Regions from separate parts of the Homo sapiens genome. Here region 2 is linked to region 1. Evidence: fine-mapped expression QTL. Tissue or cell type: whole blood. Region 1 holds a variant in brackets; the other region holds the start of a gene. All regions are shown on one strand. Distances are from middle to middle.

Region 1 (8,188 bases):
ATAAAAATAGAGGGTAAGTGACAGTTTTTTCTATCTTGAAACTATGGTCATATAGGACAGATTCTCTGGTTGGCATCCTAGCCCCATTTAGGGCTTCTCCACCTGTCTCTGGAGATTTCATGGACCATAATGACTTCAGCAGGGCATGTGGGCAGCAAGGGCAAAGGGTCCTTTACGCTCGGTATTTTGTGTCTTGTAGAAAGCTCAGTGACCCTATTGGTCATGGTGATTGGTTCAGAAATGTGACATGCTAAGCCACTCAAAGTACTCCACAGAGGTTCTGGGCCAGAGTCAGGAGAAACAGCCTCTTTTTCTTCAGGGATTTTTAAACAGAGAAAATGCGCAAGGACTATCAACAGCTCTTATGAATAAGCCACACAGACAGAGAAACCTAACATCACTTGGGCCGTGCTTGAAGCTAGAATGTCCCTGGGCTTTTCAGTTATGTGAGCTAATAAATTTTCATTTGTTTTCCTAAAATCCTTGATATTGGGTTTCTATTACTTTTAAGAAATCTAAGAATCATATTTTCAAATTATCAATGGAAGTCTCAAAGCCTCAAAAACTTCAAGAACTAAAAAGAAACATGAGCTTATTTAAACTCCCACATAAAATTCAACAATTAGAAAGTCTCATGAACATCTTTATGCAGTCTCAAAAATAGTCTGGAATAAAGACATGCAAATCCAGAGGCACCTGGCCCCAGAAGAAGTGTGGAGCAGTGCAAGGATTTGGGAAGACTGCTTTTAAAGGACTTAGAAGAGTTACTAGCACACAGCAGAAGCAATATATATTGAGTTTCCCTTCTTCCCTTCTAGTTCTAGTTAGAATAAAGGAAAATATGACACTGATTAATGAAGAGCACATACTTAAAAAGAAAAAGCAATTGCCAAAATGAAATATTTCCTAATTTAAGAAAGGGAGAAAAATAATTTTGTTCAAATCTACCTAGAAAACACATTTTAAGAAATTTGGTAGTGATTATTTGGTCACCTAGTAAATCACAGAGAAAACCCACTATCTATATGAGCACAAAAAGGCACATCACAGAATTCCAAAAACACTCTAGATCACAGGAGCTTATCGTACTTACCAGAACGCTCAGATAAATGCCTTGGAAGTGGCACATAGAAACATTCTGATATTACCACCAAGACCTGGAAGGAAAAAAGTGATTTTACAGTGAATAGATAGGACATTTATTACCAAAGGACCTCAAAATTAGGCCTTGCTTCTATAATCAGATATTCTTAGACTAATAATTAGCAGCTAGTCAAAAGTCTTCACAAGAGACAAGGATATAATTAAGAATTTCCTACTTTTCAAATGTGACATAATACAGGAAAATATTAATTTAGAAAGTGGTCACAAAGCCAAAAGTCTACAGAGAACCCACTATAAATAGATGAACCAAGCAGGTATAAGAAGATAGACACTATGAACCAAGTCTTTTTAAATACACTATTCTGGACAACCAAACCACTCTGTATATAGGCTGCCCCTCACCAACGGGTAACCCCTGATTGAATGGAAGAACATTTCACAAATGTTACAGCCAGCTGTGGGTGGGGAAGGATTGAGGATGACTTTGAAGGAGGAGGCATTTAATGCCCTGGGCAGTCAGGAGAGAACAGCAGCACCGCCTGGCTGCTCTAAGCTAAACTAAGTTGGATCTCCATGGGGGTCTTGGATCCAGAGAAAGCCCTGAATGTCAAACTGAGGAGACCCAGGAGGTGGGGCAATGAGTTGCAGGAAGGCTTGGTGGGTTGGAGAACAATAAGCTCTAAGCCATTAAATCAATTTGAACAACAAAGAGAAAAAAAAACATTCCATCTGAAATGATTCAGGTTTGAAAACCTTACCTTTTAATGTGATAGTTATATGCTTACTGGCTATTCTAGGACATAATGTTTCTTTCTGACTTTTCTTTTTTATTTATAATTGACACACAGTAACTATATATACTGATGGGGTACAATGTGATGTTTCAATGCATGTATTACAGTATAATGATCAAATCAGTGTAATTACCATATCCATCATCTTAATTTATCCTACTCTTCTATTCTGGAAAATTGTACACTCAACAATTTTATCTCAGGTTTAGTCTATCTAATTTACTCATTTAATTTTGACTCAGTTGGTGAGATTACAAAAAAAAAAAATTTGGATCCTAGCTTCCCAACAGACATGTCATCCTTCAAGGAGTCTGGGCCATTCAGAGCCAGCCTCAGGCAGCTTTGTCCCCCAGTATTCCTTTACCCTGGCATGCTACGTAAATATTCTCTATGTGGCTAAGACATGAAAACAATTGACAAACACTTTTCTATCATCCTAGAAGTTAACAAAAATGTCATTCTGGAATAGGTGATTTAAATTGGGATAAGAATGCAGCTGTTTCAAATTGTGTAACTCTCACAAAACAGAAGTTGAAAGTACATAAGAAATTAAAGGTTACTAAAAGCAAAAATTCTAGCAGTTGTGTGTTTACTTTAATATACTTAACAGTTATAGAAAAGGCATTCTGTGTGTGTGTGTATATATATGTGTGTGTGTGTATATATATATATATATATATTTTTTTTTTTTTTGAGACAGGGTCTAGCTCTGTCACCCAGGCTGGAGTACAGTGGCAAGATTATGGCTCACAGCAGCCTCGAACTCCTGGGCTCAAGTGATCCTCCCACCTCAGCCTCCCGAGTAGCTGGGACTACAGGTGTGTGCCACCATGCCAGGCTAATTTTTGTATTTTTGTAGAGACAGGGTTTTACCATGTTGCCAAGGCTGGTCTCAAACTCCTGGGCTCAAATGATCCACCTGCCTCAGCCTCCCAGAGTGCCAGGATTACAGGCCTGAGCCACTGTGCCCAGCCTAAAACAGGTACTTTGAACACAGATATGTGTTTGTTATTTTTTGGAAACTTATTAACAGTAAATGTATGAATCTTTTATAATTTATGATTCATATGCTTTGAAATTATTATTTCGTTAATAAAGTTAATAATATTTTGTTAAATAAAGTTATTTTCTTATTAAGGAAGGGTAGTCTATCTCACTTAATCACTTGAACAGGCTAGAATCACTCTCTCCTTTCTTCAGGCCAAGCCTCCAATAACCTTTCTACACTGATTATCTGAATCTAGGTTTCCAAAGGAATCTAAGGCATAGGCAGGCAGGCCTGACTCAATTTCATGGACTTAAAGTCAACATCAAAAATAATATTCTAAAACTCTAAGCATTTTCACTAGTCTTCCAACAGGGTCACACACAACCTACATTCCCTATAACTCCATCATTGACTCGCCTGGGACCTCATACTGTTTCCCCCTACAAGAACCTCACACTATGGTAGCCCCAAAATACACTGCTAGAAAAATCTCGCACCAGACAACAGATGGGAGAAGCACAGACAATCACATTCTATTTATATCCGGTGTCAAATCCCTTTAGACGGGAGCAATGGGGACATGTTAATTAGCAAAAAGATTAATGCAACAGAACAGAACATACCCAGGACCTAATGAAGGACATATACAGATATCTAAGTAAGTCCCATTCTTATCCCTGAAGTTAACATCAGGAGCCAAGTTTCAAAGATAAGCCATGATATGTATTAAGCATGTTCATAGAAAAGTCAAATCGAGCCTCCTTGGCCTCTTGGGGTTGTGACTTACTATAAGTCAATTGTTAACATTTTTAAAAAGAACTTGCTAAAGAGCCAAAATTCATTATAAAATATAAGGACAGACTTTAAGATAATCTTACCTTAAAGTCTGTTCTTTGACATAAATTTTTAGTAATCATCAATTATTCCCATTATAGTGTTTAGGAACTATGTGTTTAGTATACAATATAAAGGTTTTTAAAAACTTTTTGGTTTAATTAGGGTTTAAAATGCAATCAAACTAATCAAGATTAGGTTAAGAGAAATAAAAAATAACAAGAAGTACAACATGCTGAACATTTATAGTTGCCTATGTAGTTAGATAAATAAATTTATTATTCAACTCTTGCCTGAAATACCTGGGGAGAAAATACCTGGGGAGATATATACTGCATACTGATTTTCATGCCCAAAGAATAATTGTGTTGTGTTAACTACATTATCTATCTCAGGAAAACCAGAGTGTATGCATAAGCGGCTAGTCAGGATTAGTTTAACTGGAGGATAAGAACAACAACAACAACAATCTTGCATCTACACAAGGAACAAATTCAAAACCTTGGCCTTATCACTACAGTGTTTCTAATTAAGCAGGCAATGTGTGAAATCACAGCTGACTCAGTTGTCTTAGAAACTATCAATTCTAGTAAGGTCTCTTTTTTTTTTTTTTTTTAATTACTGTCTATAGGCAGTACACATCTTCAAAATACTTAAGGGATAGGATTAGGGGATAAGAATTTAATAAATTTTCTGTTATATCTCACATTACCATTGAAAGCAGTCTCAAACAAGCAAATGCTATTTAACTACTTAGATTGCACAAAATACTATTTTTTATGTGCTTTTTCTTTCTTGGCTGCCTTTTATTTGTACATGAAATTCATTTTGCCTTAAAGATAGAAAAAGTTTGGTATTATCTCTTACCAGACCCATAAAAAGGCCAAAAACCAAGGTGGCTATGACGAAAAA[G/C]ACATAAGAACACCAAGCAGGAATTCCAAGAGTCACTGTGAAATAGTTGTGAAGATGCTGGAATCAGAAGAAAAAAAATAAAACATTAATTTTTAAGAGAACCAAAAATATTTCAATCTCTCTCTCTAGCTGTTGTTTCTACATACATAGGTTCCCACAAAGCTTTATGTATCTAAATGATTCTTAAAGAACAAGTCAATTTTATAATATTGGGAAACTGAGAGTAGTAATTAAGGTCATTACTAAAAAAAAAGTTATACTTGCTTAGAGTTCATAATCTGGATAGAATTCTGGTAGAATCGTTTTGATAGTCCTTTCTTCCATCATGATGGATGCTTTTGGCCCTCCTCCCCTAATAATTATATACATCTCAATGTTTACTTATAATAGGGCATTCATGAAAAAATTAAACTTTTTGGGCCTCTGACTTTTTAGTAAAACTAAATTACGACTTACAGAACGTCAATCATTTAAAATGTCTCCATACCTCTTTTTCCTAATTAGACTCTCATTGCTCTACACCTATTCATCCTTTCAAAGTTTGGTAAATTACCAGAAAACATAAAATGTAACAGTAGACAGAAGAAAGTTTTTCTGATTAATTTATTATGAGCAAATGAGATTCCAGCAGTCTTTGAATAGAGTGTATATCCCTTCATGCTTACTGTTCCCTAAGACTCTATTTGATGACAAACACTCTAAAAATGAGTGAAGGGACATAATCACAGCTAGAAAGTATTTACATGCTAAATCATAAAGAAATTAACAGATATGAACTTGCTATTTCAAAGTCAAAACCTACTTAGATGTAGAGTTGCAGGAGCCATGCTTCCTCACAATCACTTAGTCATTTGTTCAAGACCCTGACAGCTTCAAAAATGGCCATTAAAATTCAAGTAACTACTGGACACAGGATGATATGGCTCCAAATATCATCAGCAAGAGAGGTAATGACAATGACTTCCCTAGAACCAGTAAGGTTGATGAAAATGAGTCCAAGTTTCTATTTTAATTTCCTATTTCTCAAAATCTAAATCACTCCCATTGGTTTCTTAGTTTATGTCAATGCAATTAAAAAACATATTTTATTCTGGCTTAATTTGGAATGATAAATAAAGAACAAAGCTTGTAAACTGATTTAGCAAAATCTGAAATATCTCTCTACAATTTCTTATTCAGCAGAAGAGATAGAGCTAAAGACGCAGCAAGTAGTTTAAACACTGACACATGGAATCAAAGTGTTCAATCAGTATTTGTTGAATAAGGAAAAGATGCATCAAATGCCTGAGCTATTTATTCATACGAAAGGCAAACACACTCTCAAACTGTAAAGCTGGCATCTGTCCTCTGTTGATGGCACTGGTCATCAGTGTGTGTTTAGCCAGGACAACTGTTTATTAAGAGTAACTTGGCTGGACACGGTGACTCATGCCTGTAATCCCAGCACTTTGGGAGGCCGAGGCGGGCAGATCACGAAGTCAGGAGTTCGAGACCAGCCTGACCAACATGGTGAAACCCTGTTTCTACTAAAAATACAAAAATCAGCTGGGCGTAGTGGCAAGCGCCTATAATCCTAGCTACTCAGGGGATTGAGGCAGGAGAATTGCTTGAACCCCGGAGGCAGAGGGAGTGGGCTGAGATTGCGCCACTGCACTCCAGCCTGGGTGACAGGGCAAGACTCCGTCTCAAGAAAAAAAAAAAAAAAGTAACTTAGCATTTTACAACTCAGCAAGCAAAAGGCGTGTTTGAGATATCAAAACATCATTTCATTCAAACTCTTTTCAAAGAAAGTTTTAAAATTTACTGTATAGTTTCCTACTTTAGAAAATACTGTGTATTAAGCTTATGCTTTTCTCGGAGGACTCAGTATCATCAATATTAAACCCGGAAATGTGCCAAAGAATTAGAAGATGGTCAAAGTCAATCTGCCTCTGTGTCAACCCATGAATGTATTTTAGAACTTGCTTTATAAGTATCTGCTGATTTATCTTACTCATATGGTTAGGAAAAATAATGTGCAGTTTTAAGTCCTTCTATACAGTATCTCATGCCCTTTCTGCAAAATAAATGATTAATGCAACTCTCAAGAAACTTTCTAAATTATTTTTAAATTTCATTAAATCATTTGCTTTTGAAGCATTGCATTCTGACTCAAACACTTAGTACTTTCAAAACATCCTCTTATTTTAATAAGCTGCACTTCAATTTTCTTGTATCAATTTCCTCTTTAACGGAATTTGAGTTTCTTGGAGAAACTCTGCCATCTTCTGGTCTTTTAGGTCATTATTAGTAACTATTCATTAATCAGGTTGTACTTTCACAACTACAGATATAAATATTTATCTGTCTACTTTGTCTGAGTCTACAACAGCTTTAAAGCCCCTTATGAGTGTTAGGATTAGTGGTACCATGTCCTTGAAGTTTTGCTTTATATATGTTTCCAAAGGAATAGCTTATTAAATAAAATCCAATTCAGTTTTAGATCATTGTGTTTCTGTTTCTTTAACTACCAGGCAAAGTGACAGTTTTCACTTGTGGAAAATACTGATCCTTATTCAATATTATATGTGCTTACCACAAGGAAATATCCCATGCTGTTCGCTGAAAATGCACAAAAATGTAAACTGATGGGCATGATACCTTATACTATGGTACTAGATGAATAAGAAAGTATCTTACTCGGGCTGGGCGCGGTGGCTCACACCTGTAATCCCAGCACTTTGGAAGGCCGAGGCGGGTGAATCACGAGGTCAGGAGTTCGAGACCAGCCTGGCCAATATGGTGAAACCCTGTCTCTAACAAAAATACAAAAATTAGTGGGGCTTGGTGGCAGGCGCCTGTAGTCCCAGCTATTTGGGAGACTGGGGCAGGAGAATTGCTTGAACACGGTAGGCGGAGGTTGCAGTGAGCTGAGATCGCCCCACTGCACTCCAGCCTGGGTGACACAGTGAGACTCTGCCTCAAAAAAAAAAAAAATCTTAGTCTGTTCACTGAAAATGCACTAAAATGTCATCTGATGGGTGTGACACCTTATACTATCATAGTACATGATTAAGTTAGAGCTAACTTTTGGCTACATACATATTTGAGTGAGAAGATGAAATTAAAACATCATTACAACAGAATAAATGAGAAGAGCATTCTAATCAGTGGTCAGACAGACTTAAGGAAGACAGCCAAGCCAAGGCCTCCATGCATCTGAGGTAGAGCCTTCCCTCCCCAGAAAGGCAAGCACTCCCTCTGGAAGTCTAAACTACTGCAGGTTGGATTAAATACTACTTAGTCACACCCACTCATCCAGCCCAGTGTTGCAGAGTCTCATTCAAACCTAGACTGGCCCTGAAGGACAGAGAGCCTTTGGATTTAGAGTTCACCTGTGTCATAGGATATACTCTCTGAGGAGTTCTGGAACAAGCCCTTTATCTCTTTCAGACACAGATCAGAATCCCCAAAATATCTTCCCTGCAAGGAAACAGCTAGAAAAGACTCTTCAATGATGGCCAAGGGTTCACCTCTTTCATGCTTTAGCTCTTAGCACTTGTAACAAAACATAACC
Region 2 (8,188 bases), 34 kb after region 1:
CATACATTTTTAAAACACTGGAAATTCAATTGCAAGAATCCAAAAAATTGACTGTTTGAAAGACTAAGAAAAAATAACCAAATTTAATTTCATAATAGAAGCTTTTCATGTCTCAGGGCTGCCAAATACTGCTAGATTCTTAAGAATAAATTATCTATACCAATATAACCAGAAACTGCATTAGAGGGGATCTGTATGACGTGGCGTATAAAAGAAAAAATTCCCAGATGAAAGAGCGCATATAAGCAAATGAACAAATAAAGAACTCTCATTCAAAGTAATGAATACATTTTGATATCGGAAAGCTTCTCAATCTGTGTCTTTAAAGAAGTTAACTACAACAAAAGCTTCTCAATCTGTTTCTTTAAAGAAGTTAACTACAACATCTTTGAACTACTAACAATTTCCATTTATGTATGACCAGCTCATCTGAACTAAGTGTCAAGATGAAGCTAATTTTAATGCATTTTGTTTTTCTCTGTTATATACATAAAAAAAAAAATCTGGTAACGTATAGGCTATTTAAATGAATTCTTAGAAATTCATAGCAGGCCTCTAGTGGTATGGAGGATATAATGAATTTTATATTTTTTTAAGTACTGGAGTTTTTTTCACAGCAAGGAGGAGGAGTATCACCTGATAATACAGAAAAAAATAGATCACAAATAGATAAGAACCAAAATATTTCTTCAGGATGAGCACTTGGGTTTTAGTGCGTATAAAGAAGTTGGATGGAATGGTTTGGATCAATTTTCATTGACAGCCTTGCTTCCTAGCCACCTATTCTGAAGTGCACTCGATAAAAAGAGAATGTCTACTAAAATGACCTTGTGTCTACACAGCTTACTTCCAGATTACAAGACTCATCTGGCATCACAGGCCAAGCATATTCCATACAACTGGACACATGACAAACTCAGAGCAATTGATTACTATGTTTAGGTTTATACATTCATAAAAAAGTAAAATTTGAACCATCAACATGGCCAAGCACAGATGTTGTTGGCTCTCCCTCAAAAACTTATTGAGGCTTTAGTGTTCTTAATTCTATTACCAAAAAAAAAGCAATTCCAAAAGGAACCATAGAGGAGTTGAAGTCATTAAAAATGAGGAGGCCTTTCTGTTTTAACTTTTCTTACATACATATGCAAACTCAGTTTTACCCTGAAAGATGACATCTAGGAAAAAGTCCATTTTGTAAGCACCTACTGAAAAGAGAACTTTCTGTAGTATTGGCTGACAAAATGCAGTTTATCCCAAACTCTTAAAATTATTACAAACATGGAAGTCTTAACACAGCTCCACTTATTTTAAAAGTTTCTCAAATAGAATATGACCCCCTCACCTTCTTCCAAAAATAGTTAAGTGGAATATTTTAATAATTCATGTCTACAGTTCCCTTTAATAATTTCATTGATTTATTATGATACCAAGGGTATTTCATTTGGAGGTCTAAAATATCCCCTTCTTTGTGACTAAGAGGTAAATGCACATTTGAAGGGGTGATATGCCTTATGTTCTTCGAGCAATGTAATCTGCTGTGTGACATAAATTTTGGCTCTGATCTCACACTGAGGTTTTCACTCCATAGGCACCTGCTTGCAATTTAAATTGAAAGAATCAAAACTTGGTCTTGGATAAAGGAAAGATCCAATTTTCTGTCTGTGTCCTCAACGTAAAACAAAGATTCAATAGTAGTATACAGATTGCCAGAAACCACAGGCTAAAGAGATGTGGCAATTTCCTGAAAGATTTTATGTTTGGGGGGTGGGGGCGGGAGGGGGGCAGGTAGGGTGGAAAGGAGTTGTGGGAGGGGAGAGAGAGACAGAGAGAGAGAGAGAGAGAGAGGAGGGAGAGAGAGAGAGAGAGAGGAGAGAGAGGAGAGAGAGAGAGAGGGAGGGAGGGAGGGAGAGAGAGAGAGAGAGAAGAGAGAGAGGAGAGAGAGAGAGAGGGGGAGGGAGGGAGGGAGGGAGGGAGGGAGGGGGAGAGAGAGAGAGAGAGAGAGAGAGAGAGAGAGAGAGAGAGAGAGAGTCTGCAAGCCCACCATGATGGTCTCTCAAGCCCGCTCAGACATCTGCCCACCATCCACTGCAAGCCTCTTTCAAATGGTCACTTCCTATTATAAGGTTAAACTATAATCAACAAATCCCTTTCTTTCTCCTAACTCAAAACTGTAGTTTCCCATCTCCTTAAAGAAAAGGCACTATCCACCATTTGCTTTCTATTGTTAAAAGGGGCAATGCGTATCTTCTTTTCTTTATGGCACAATTATTAATATTACTCAGAAAGTCCTACCTTTACAAGTTATAATAAGTATCAACATTTATTTGAAATCATACTGTAAAATTTAAAAGGCATCCATATTTATGTTTTATTCTCACAATGACATCTCCAGGTCTTCAAACGGAAGACTACGACACAAATGGCCTGCCTTCACCGTGCTGCAATTTCTTCAACAGGTAACTTGCTTAGCCTGTGCTACGTATTCATACTGCACGTGGATGTCACTGAATGTCCTTTCTCTTCCAATACATATCTGTATCTAAAAGCACACGGTTTGCTTGCAGATTTTCTTCCTTCCCTTCTCCTCCCTATGGGAAGCTGCCCACTCCACCCCGAAAACACTGTCCCCCAAAGCAAGGGGACGCGCTGCACCCTCGGCTGTCACCGCGAGGGCTCGGCGCGCATGCGCGGCGCGAGCGGCCGGGCCCCACAGCCGCAGGTCGTTGGTAAGGCGGGTCCGCGGACCCCAGGTCGAGCCCAGCGGCAGTGCAGGATCGCAAGCGGCCCGGCACCGGCGCCGCAGGTTGTTGGCAAGCCTGGTCCGGGGTTTTAGGTTGAGCCCAAGCGGCAATGCGGGATCGCCACCGGGCCGCGCGGGCTTGGGAGGGTGACGCCCGCGAGGACACTGCGGCGTCCGGGGCGGGCGGGCACACTCACAATTTCAGCATCCACTCGCCCTCCATCACCAGCGTCCAGTTGGAGGCGGTCATGGGCTGGACCCGGCTCTGCTCCGGCGGCAGCGCGGCCTCCTCGGGGCCTGCCGTCGCCGCCACAGCCGCGATCCAGGCGGCCAGGAGCGCCGTTAGCTGCGGGCCGCAGCGCCCACCCGCCATGTTGGGCGCCGAGCGAGGCTTCTCGGCGGGGAGTGTGGGGAAGGGCAGCGGCCGGCCCGCAGCCTCGCTCGCCCGCCGGGTTTTTCAAGGAAGCGGGAGACGCAAGGGCCACCCCGCCTACGCCTAGCGGCGCAGACTGGCGGTGCTCGCAATGCCGCGGAGGACGCCACCTCTTATCGCCGCTTGCCCGTCGAGGCCACGCCCCCTCCCGCCTCCACTTGCCGTTGCCCGGGGTGTCGGTTACCTCAGCAACCACCGCCCTTTCTTCCTGACCGCCAAGCTGACAATAAACAGATGACCCAACGTTGCCTAAGTTAGAACATGCACCGCTGCTGCCCAGGCTCCAATAAGGGCAGGGTTGGCGCGTGTGGGCTTCTCTAAAGGGAAACATGGCCAGTAATTTTAAAATCCATCCCCTCTTCAATGATAGCAAATATAAAAGCAACGGGCTGCAAGGTACACGTATGTTTAATGAAAAATGGAGGGACGTGGTGAGTATCTCCTGCTGAAGAGAGAGGAAAATTTAAGTACTCTGCATGTGTATATTGAAGCATCACTAATTTAGGATATTGATGAAACTAGCCTATGCAATTGCATTTTTTTTACAAAAAATGTTAATTTCATAGAAACTCTTAAAAACATGGGTACTAGCCGATAAAATGAGTCAATTAAGACTATTGCCACCTGCAGTAAAATGGACCTCACATTTCTCTTGACTACAGTTTTGTCAGATCTAAAATGAGGGTAGCCTTAAGTGATTTCCAAATTTCTTTCCAGGTCACATTAGATGAATCTGTACCTTGGGACCACCACACCGTTAATATATAAGACTGGATTACAATTAAAGGATGAGGAAGCTTTCTCAAAGGGTGCTTTGTATGTGTTTACTAGTTGTGCAAACCATGAACCTCGGTAATGTGGTTAATAGACCATGAAAAGGATGTGGTTTCTGCCCTCGGCTTAAAACAAAGACAGCAATAAGACTAAAAGTACTTCAGGGCACATGAGAGCAAATTTCAATCAATACTTATAGGAGAGGGAAGTTAATTTTGCCTGAAGAGAAGATCTGGCCTGCATTATGCATTAATTAGTATTAGCTAAAAACTATGTGGACCTAGCCCTTATCATTAAAATAAAACACTCAAGGGTTTACAAACTATTGAAATTTAAGAAAATGTCTTTGCAATGAATGCTACTAAGACTCACTGTTATTAAGTACATACATATCAATTCCATAAACTCAATGGAAAACATTTTACTGTGCTTGTAAAAAGAAGTGACTCATAAACAGGAATTCTGTCATTTTATCACTTTCATGATAGAATGATGTGTAGAATTTGTTTTACAATGCTCCAGAAATAAAATGTAGGGAATGGAAAGAAGATAGGTGAAAGAAAAGTGGTGCAACATCAGTCAGTGTTGAAGCTAAGTTCATTTTGCTACTTTACCTACTCATGCATATGTTGGAAAATTTACAAAATGAAAAGCTAAAAGGAGAGAGAGCATCTTCAGCATGAAAGACAGCCATTACCAAAGCATTTCCTATCTTTAACAAAAACTGAAGTCTTAGCCTTCAGACTAAGGATGGTAGGAAGAAAGTAGCAAGGAAGTATGGGACTGACCTTGCCGTAAGGAGTCACAGACCAGGGTAAGGGACCTGTTGCTGTCAGACCATGATTGGCATCTTAGCCCTGACACTTCCTAGCCATGTGATTTGGGGCTAAAACTAGTCCACACCAAAGTTCTCTTAAAATGCGGGTAGTAATAGAACCTGCTCCAAAAGGTGGCTGTGAAGATTATATGAGATAAGAATAATGCCTAGCACATATTCTAACTCAAAAAGCTTACATATTAGGTTGGTGCAAACATAATTGTGGTTTTTGCCACAATATTGCCAACACTAATATTATTATTTGGAGGCAACAATACGCTGTAATGTCTATTTTTCTTATACTAAAGTTAACTTCACTTAGCATGATACACAATGCCTCTCACAGCCCAGCTTCAGTTTTGCCCACTTTACATTCCACTATTCCCAGAGTTCCCTGTGTCCTAGTAACACAAAGCTACTCCCCATTCCCAAAGCACATTGTGTACTTCAGTGTCTCCTTGCTCCTTCATTCTGATTAGAACACTCTTCTCCAGTTGTCCAGTGAATCATTCAGTCTCTGTCATGTAGTCCACACTGTACCTCTGATAGCTCATGCAGAATGAGCTGCTGTCTCTTCTCAGATCCAATTGCTCTTCTGTATAACTGATATGGTTTGGCTCTGTGTCCCCATCCAAATCACATTTTGTAGCTCCCCTAATTCCCACGTGTTGTGGGAGGGACCCCATGGGAGATAATTGAATCATGGGGGCGGGTCTTTCCCATGTTGTTCTCGTGATAGTGAATAAGTCTCATGAGATCTGATGGTTTTAAAAATGGTAATTTCCCTGCACAAGCTGTCTCTCTTTTGGCCTGCTGCCATCCGCGTAAGACATGACTTACTCCTCCGTGCCTTCCACCATGATTGTGAGGCTTCCCCAGCCATGAGGAACTGTGAGTTGAATAAACACTTTTTCCTGTATAAATTACCCCGTCTCGGGTATGTCTTTATCAGCAGCGTGAAAATGGACTAATACAATAACTTCACCACATACCTTTCATAGTATAATGCATTTATATGTAGCTATCACCCTCTACCCTCACTCCTCCAACCACTACTAAAAACTCTTCAAGGTCAAGGGCTTTACCTTATATATCTTTGTGTCCCCTGTATTGCAGAATACCCATCCCATAGATGTACTTGGGATAGACAGCTTCTGGCACTCCTCCCAAGATCTCTCCCTCCTGGTATTCAGGCCCTTGTGTGATCCTTTCCTCTTGAGTGTGGGTTGGGCCTGGTGACCCACTTCTAACAGAAGATGGGAAAACTGATGGATTATCACTTCTTTGTTAAGGTTACAAAAACCTGAGACTTCCATTTTGCTGGAAACTTCTTTTCCTCTTGCACACTCACTCTGCGACTCTGTGTGGAGAGCTCCATGTGACAAGGGAGGTCTGCAGCCTAAGCAACTGAGACCTCAGCCCAACAGCCCTCAAAGAACTGGATCTTCAAACAACCACATGAGTGACCTAGAAGCAAATCTGTCACCAGTGCTCTTGAGACGGGTGAGCCTTATAAATGACCCAGAACCAGGGGGCAAAGCTTAGCTTAGCTGGGACCTCCACCCACGGAAACTGTGAGGTAATCAATGTTGTTACATAATATCAAGCCACTAAGATTTGGGGCAATTTGTTATGCTGTAATGCTATGCTAGGTCAGTGTGTGATCCATGTTTATGTTTAAAACGTGGATTTACAGGTTTAAGAAGATTGGTACCTGGTACTAGGAGAAAAGGCTTTTTCCCCCAGAGTGATGGTGGCACTGCAGGGCAGCTATGATTACACAAAAATATGTGGTTCCTAGTAGGCAAAGGAATTCCTAGGCCTCTGATGAGGTAACATCATTAGCAGGAGAGAGGGGAAGAAGAGTGTGGTAGATCCTATCTAGTCCCCCTCTCTTTCCCTGCCCCACAGAGGAGGATGCTCCTACACCCCTCAGAAGTTAGTCATATTTATATGAATTGGCCAATGGGCTACAAATGGAAGGGGTGGGTATGTATCATTTCCAGGCTGAAGTATTTAATCACCGGCACAAAATGTCCCAGTGTTCTGTTCTCCTGCTGTGGAAATTTTAGAGAAAAGATCATGATCTAAGAGTCTACAAGACCAGAGCAGCCTGAATTGCTGAGCTGCCTGGTGGAGAATAGCAGCATTGGGTGGTTCCCAGGATTCTTAAAAGGACTTTACAAAGGTAAGAAATACGTTTTCACTATGAGAGATTATTCAGGTTAACTATTTCTGCCTAATCAACCATCCCAAAACTCACCTCTCATGGTTTTGGGGGTTCAAGAGCTCAGCTGGGCTATATTTGCTTGTACTCTTTTATATGGTGGCAGACCCCTGGAGGCCGAGGCCAGAATTAGTTGAAGTCCCTTGCACCCACATCTGGCACTTAGTGTAGGCTGGCTGGAACAGCTGGGGACTGCACAGGCATTGCTCTTATCCACGCAGTCTCTCCATGTGGCTGGCTTCGGCTTCCTTCAGCATGGCAGTTTGAGGGCTGTCATACTTAATTTCTCTAGAGCAAGAGTTCCCAGAAGGTGGAAACTGCATTGCTCTAGAAGTCTAAGAGTGTCGTTTCTACCTCATTCTATTAGTCAAGGCACTGAAGACACACCAGACTGAAGGGGAGAGGAATTAGACTATCCTTTAATAAGAAGCAGCAAAATAAATTGCAGCCATACTATCAAAAAGCCACTCTGAAAATTTGGAATTGTCACTGAAGCATAGTCTAGCCTATTTTGACTAACTCACTGCCTTCCTTTGAATACTTATTTATGAACAGCTGAGAGTTCTTTATTTTGGAGGGGAGGTGATATTTTCAGAGAGCAGAGTAAGAACTGCCTCTCCGTTTTTACCTTCTGTGAGTAGGTCCTGTAAGATGCATCTTATGCAAAGGTATTGGAGAAAATGATTTTCAAGCCTGTGGGCGGGTAGATGGATTGATGCCTTGGTATTTAAGTGTTCATTAAATGTTACAGAATTTTTGTTAAGCTTATTGAAAAAAAGATTCAAAAGTGTATGTTGAGAATTATGTAAACACACCTATTTTACCCTTGAATAATGGAGTAGGAAAACGATTTACCAAGAGGGATAAAACTTATATTCTAATGGTAGAAAATTTTAATACATAGCTATAGACAATGCCTTTGATAAAAGTAGGTCAGGACTTGATATTAAGAGGATAATCAATGAAAGATAAGGAGATGGTATTCAGATTACAAACTCTGTAATAATAGGGTATAGTTATACAATGGTTTTCCTAACGAAGATGGTAAAACCAGTATGGAAATATTAAATAAGTTAAGCAATGCTGTAAAATTAGTCCATAAAGTAATAATAGTACAAAAATTTAATTACACAAACAGATTTGCTAAATGCCTTACAGGAACAAGAGGTAGAATGGAGAATTTAAATAGGACAC

The links. PIP is the estimated chance that this variant, and not a neighbour inherited with it, causes the effect.
Region 2: it holds the start of TMX4, and the variant in region 1 is fine-mapped to the expression of TMX4 in whole blood (INTERVAL, PIP 0.96).

Annotation. Positions count from the first base shown.
Region 1 is chr20:7,982,701-7,990,888 of GRCh38, forward strand. It overlaps TMX4 (thioredoxin related transmembrane protein 4), which reads right to left. Exons shown (of 8, transcript NM_021156.4): 6 at 4,588-4,689; 7 at 1,094-1,157. Among named protein-coding and RNA genes, the nearest start is that of TMX4, 33 kb to the right of the region's middle. RefSeq lists an enhancer at 1,456-2,073. The variant G/C (reference allele first, on the strand shown) is at 4,633.
Region 2 is chr20:8,016,498-8,024,685 of GRCh38, forward strand. It overlaps TMX4 (thioredoxin related transmembrane protein 4), which reads right to left and starts at 3,264. Exons shown (of 8, transcript NM_021156.4): 1 at 2,941-3,264. The coding sequence starts at 3,116. It overlaps TMX4-AS1 (TMX4 antisense RNA 1), which reads left to right and starts at 3,409. Exons shown (of 7, transcript NR_184034.1): 1 at 3,409-3,607; 2 at 3,894-4,764; 3 at 5,562-5,658; 4 at 5,884-5,952; 5 at 6,060-6,270; 6 at 6,774-6,955. RefSeq lists silencers at 2,775-2,914, 3,025-3,264.